2 separate regions of the Homo sapiens genome follow, and region 2 is linked to region 1. The links come from fine-mapping of genetic effects on gene expression. Tissue or cell type: whole blood. Region 1 holds a variant in brackets; the other region holds the start of a gene. All regions are shown on one strand. Distances are from middle to middle.

The links. PIP is the estimated chance that this variant, and not a neighbour inherited with it, causes the effect.
Region 2: KLF8 starts here. The variant in region 1 is fine-mapped to the expression of KLF8 in whole blood (TOPMed, PIP above 0.99).

The regions. Positions count from the first base shown.
Region 1 is chrX:56,067,075-56,069,834 of GRCh38, forward strand. All of the region lies in intron 1 of LOC124900486 (a long non-coding RNA gene), which reads left to right. It also overlaps a transcript of KLF8 not described here. Among named protein-coding and RNA genes, the nearest start is that of KLF8, 160 kb to the right of the region's middle. The variant C/T (reference allele first, on the strand shown) is at 1,439.
Region 2 is chrX:56,230,879-56,233,495 of GRCh38, forward strand. KLF8 (KLF transcription factor 8) reads left to right here and starts at 1,478. Exons shown (of 6, transcript NM_007250.5): 1 at 1,478-2,463. The coding sequence starts at 2,457.

The sequences.
Region 1 (2,760 bases):
CTTTTTTCTGTTAAATTTCAGCATTCTGTCTTAGGTGATCTCTTCAAGATGATACTGTCTACTCACTAATTTGGTTTTGTGTGGTAGAAGCTTTAAGGTGGCTGACTAGAGGCATCCAGTACTCACGTCTTCCATTCGTCTTTGTGGAGTACGTGAGTACCAGATGCCTCTAGTCAGCCATCTTAAAGCTTCTTCCCAAAAAAATTTTGAAATCCCCTTGAACTCTTGTAGCCAATAGGTCAGGCCTATTTTTTTACATATCAGATTTTTGTTATTTTTCATTTGAATAGTGTCTAGGAACTCAGAATGGTTTTGGAAGCTTTTAATCTGAGTAATTGGGTCATTTTTACCTGCATGAGAGGCAGTGCCTAGATGGTAGACTAGAGGCAGCTCATGTGTGCTGTTCTCAAAGAAAGGAAACAAAAGGGCTAGTGAGCACTAACTCTGCAGGTTGATCTTCTGAGAAACCAGGTCAGGATCCATCAATGCAGCAGGGGAACACAGAGAGCAGAGGATCAAAGCTGGTCAACAGCCAGCCTGGACTCAGCAGAGAGCCAGGAGAACCTCTCTAATATGAGAAAGAGTGAGTGAGAGCACCTAGGGAGATTCACACTCCAACAGGGACCTGTGCAAGACTAGGAATGGGAGAATCCCCCTTCCCCCGTCCCCCTCCTACACTTCTAAGACTGAGGCAGAAAACTGTTCAGACTTTTTCACAGGCAACTCTCGAGTCCAAGGGGACTTCTACAAGCCTTGGGCCCTAGAAAACACCAGCACTTGCACCATAGCTCCAATAGAGGCCAAAGTGGCAGTATCTGGGAGCAGTAAGATTGCTTTACTTCCCCTTGCTGGAAGAGGCTCAGCACCAGCTTCTAGCCTAGCGGTCCTACTTTGGCTTGAATTCGGCCAGCTATTTCACCCACCTTGCCAATGGTAGCCAAAGTGGAAATGCCTGATATAGCCTTCAGCCTCATGGTCTCCCTTTTGTGTGAACTCAGCTTTAGGGTGAAGCCTCCTGATGTTCTAGGAGACATTCTGACAGCAGGGCACATGACCCCATCCAGCCACACCACTGATAGCCAGAATGTCAATGCTTGCTAGAGCTTCTGGCCTAGTGGTCTTGCTTTTTTGTGAACTCAGCTGGATGGTGCCACTTCCTGTTGTCCTGGAAAATACCCGGATGGCAGAGTGTGTGACCCCACCTGCCCTGCCACTGGAAGCCAGGTGGGCAACACCTGTTAGAGCTTCTGGCCCGACAGCCCACTTCTGTTTGAGCACAGTTAGAGGGTGCAGCTTCCTGTTTTACCAAGCAACACCTGGATGGCAGAGCACATGACCCCACCCGACTCTGCCACTGGAAACCAGGTGAGCAACACTTCCTAGAGCTTCCTGCTCAGTGGCCCTGATTCTGTGTGAACTCAGCTGGAGCACACAGCTT[C/T]CTGTTGTTTTGGTGAACAACCAAATTTTGGAGTGTATGATTCCACCCACTCGCACCACTGGCAACCAGGCAAGCAATGCCTGCTATAACTTTTGCCCCAACAGCTTCGTTTCTGTGTAAACTCAGCTAGAGGTCACAGCTTCCTGTTGTCCCAGGAAACACCTGGATTGCAGAATGTGTGACCCCACCCACCCCTGCCAATGGTAGCCAGGCAAGCAATGCATGCTAGAGCTTCCAGCACAGCAGCCCCGCTTCTGCGTGAACTCAGCTGGAGGACACAGCTTCATGTTGTCCCATGAAACATCCAAATGGCAGAGTACATGACCCTGCCTGCCCCCACCACTGATAGCCATGCAGGTAATGCTTGCTAGAGCTTATAGGCCAGCAGCCCTGCTTCTTTCTAAAGTCAGGTGGAAGTCCCAGCTTTGTTATCCTGGGAAACACCTGGTCAGCCATGCACATGACACTCCACCCACCCTGACCACTATTAATGAAGCAGGTAACACCTATTAGAGTTTCTAGCCCAGCAGCCTCACTTCTGTCTGAACTATGCTGGCATGCACAGCCTCCTGTTGTCCCAGGAACCACTCAGATGGCAGGAGAGGTGACCCCACCCACCCATGCCACTGACAGCCAAGTGGGCAATGCCTATTAGAACTTCTGGCTCAGCTGTCCTGCATCTGTGGGAACTCAGCTGGAGTGTGCAGCCACCTGTTGTCCTGAGAAACACCTGGATGGCAGGGTGCATGACCCCACTGATCTAATCCCTGCCACTGAGAGCCAGGAATGCAATGCCCACTAGAGCTTCTGACCCAGTGGCCCTGCTATTGTGTGAGCTCGGTTAGAGGGTGCAGCTTCCTGTTGTCCTGAGAAACACCCACCCTGCTGTCCCCCACTACTAGTAGCCAGGTGGGATATGTGTATTAGAGCTTCTGGCCCAGTAAGCCCGCTTCTGTGGAAACTCAGCCGATGGGCACAGCCTCCTTTTGTCCCAGGAGGTACCCAGACAGTAGGGATGGCATCCCCACCCACCCCCACTGCTGGTAGCCAGGTGAGTCATGCCTGATCGAGCTTCTGGCCCAGCAGTTCTACTTCTGCCTGAATTTGCTAAGGGGTGCAGCCCCCTATTGCCCTGGAAACACCCAGATGCCAGAGCAGTCAACTCCACCCACCCCCATCTCCTGTAGCCAGATGTGCCACATCCCCTAGAGCTTCCAGCCCAGCAGTCATGCCCGGCTTCCTGCCCAGCAGTCTTGCCCGGCTTCCTGCCCAGCGGTCTTGCCCAGCTTCCTGCCCAGCGGTCCTGCCCAGCAGTCCTGCTT
Region 2 (2,617 bases), 160 kb after region 1:
ACAGAGGAAGCAATGGTCAGTTTTGCCTGAAGAAATTAAGTAAGGAGGGGAGATGACCTTGAGTTAGTCCTTTCAAGAAAGTGGACAGATTCATTGGAAGGACATGCAAGAAAAAAAAAGGTGGACAGAGAGCTTAGTCTATTTCAGTCAGAGAAAGTAAAGCAACCCAAGGCATAGAGATTGGAAACAGCTTGGAATTCCCAGGGATTTGTAATCCAGGTAAAGCCCAGGAGAACAGCAAAATCTCTGCTGCTTGAGAGGCAGACAAAGGCCAGATCACAGCAGGTTAAAGGATGAGTTCCAGGGTGCTGCCTTGGATGTATGGTGGTGCCATTCAGGTAGTTGGTGAACTACAGGAGGAAGAACAGAGTGTTTTGGGGAAAGGAAGGTAGATGAGATGCACAGAAGACATTCAGGCAGAAATATCAACTAAGTAAGTAGACCTATGTGTTCGAAAGTACTGGGCTGAGGCCTTCCGTTTCCTTATTTTTTTAAATAAAGGGCACAGAGAATATAACAGTACCTAGTTCCCAGGGTTGTTATTGGGACTAAATGGGGAAATGTTGAATGTAAAAGCACCTGGCTCAGGGACTTGCCCATATTAGGTGCTGAATACATGGCAGATATTATTATTTCTCCTGTCTCTTTGCTCTTCCTCCCTCTGCTTTGTTTCTTGTCTCTCTTCTTTTTCCTCCTCTTTAAAAGAATTGTGGTAGGGAAGAGGCACTGAAAATGGGCTGTGGTTGCTTGTGACTTCCTGGCCTCCCATTAAAATGAGCTAGAGAGAGACTTTCAGGCAAGCGTAAAGAAATCCTGGAAACATGGCTCCTATCCTGTGGATTCAGCTTTACGGGGATCTTCGCCAATGCCTGGCTGAGAGGCGGTCTCAGGGGGTTGAGAACTCTATTCTTAGAGGTCTGGTATCTGGGAGACTGAGAAAGCCTTTCTTAAGTCTCCCTGCTGGGCCACGCTGTATTCACAGATCATCTTCAACTCCTTCTTCTTCCCCACCTACTCCTTCGCCCTCACCTCCTTGGCTTATCTCTTGCTAGAAAATGCACCAAGCTCCAATCTCCGTTCCTTTTAGCTTCCTCCCTGAGAAGACACTGTGACCTCGCTGTCCTTGTTCGTGTTACCATGGAGAGGTAGGAGGATAAATATCGCTTCCAGTTGTCAGCTTTTTTGTTTTCTCCTTTCCCTCTTAGACAGCCCCCAGCCCCAATCCCAGTACCCGTTTCACCACCCTCCCCTGGAGAATTAGCATAACCGGAGTAAATAGGTAATCAAGCAGTGTGCTTGCAAGCCTTAATTTTGGGACAGATAAGGAAGTGAAATTGATTGGAATTATACCTGCCGCTGCTGGAGGCTGAGGGAGGCGGCCGCCGGAGGCGAGGCCAGCTCTGTCGGCCCAGGGCCCCGCCCCACCCCCTCCTTCCTCCCTCCTCCTTCTCAGCCCCACCCTTCTCCACCTCCTCCCACTTTGCACTCTCCTCTAGCGGCCGCCTGTCCTTTTTAAGGAACTCCACCCTAGGTGGAGTCCTCACGATAGTCACACCTCTCCTTTGGGCCTAGCAGGGCCAGAGAAAGACGGAATCACTCTACCCACTCAGGTTGCCCAGAGAGCACTTTAGGTTCTGACTCGCGTGGGGCGCGAGGTACCCCGTGGGGCAGCTAGGTGCCTCCAAGAAACCCCGCCCCAGAGGACCCGCACGAGTTGCTGCCATTTTTCGCTGAAGCCCCTGCCCTGGGGCTGGTGTTCTTCTCTATGATTCTACCAATCGTCGGCATTTTTTTCCTCCCTTCTTTCTTTTTAGGAAGGCGCTGGGGTGTGCGGCGGCAACGGCGGCGGTGAAGGGATCCTCTTGTGGTATCTCCTCGTGGGTTCCTGTCTTGAAGGATTTCTTCTCCGCCTCAACTTTATGTTCAAGTAGCGCTTTGGGGGTTGGGTTGGTTTTCATAGCCCCCACCCCCGGCCCTCTCCTTTTAAAGGGTGTGTGGAGTTCAGAGGATGGGTGGAGAGCGGGCTTGGCCGGAACTGAATTGGTAGAGGTAAAAGGGGAACGGAGGACCTTAAGCTCTGGCCACTTCGGCCCAGCGAACCCACTTTATTTTTGTCCAAGGAAAAGCTGCAGGGGGGAGGATTCTTTTTAGGAAGTCTACTCTGCCGGCCCCTGATTTTTGGGTTGGATGCTTGAGAGCTTTGTTTCCCTTGTTCCGAGAGTGGCCCAGCTGGGTCTGAATCGACTCCCTCCCCTTTCGACCCCCTCCTCATTTTCCAGCCCGGAGAAATAGGGGAGTGGGGGCCCAAGAACGAGAAGACGAGAACGCGTCGCCCTGCGCTATGTCAGAATGGGGCGGGTGTGAGGGGAACAGCTCTCTTGCGATCAGCTCAGGAGTATGAGCCTCCCGGAGGACGGCATGAGTTCTGGACACTTCAGGAGTCCTCAGCTAGTGACATGGTCGGTAAGTGACTCTGGGACTAATACCCACCCACTCCCACCTCTTTCGTCTAGATTCTATCCCCCTCCCAGTCCCCCTGCTCCCCCCACACACCCCACTTGGGGTTTCAGCAGTGGGGGCGGGAGCGGAAGGTTAAGAACACTATGTGGAATCAAAT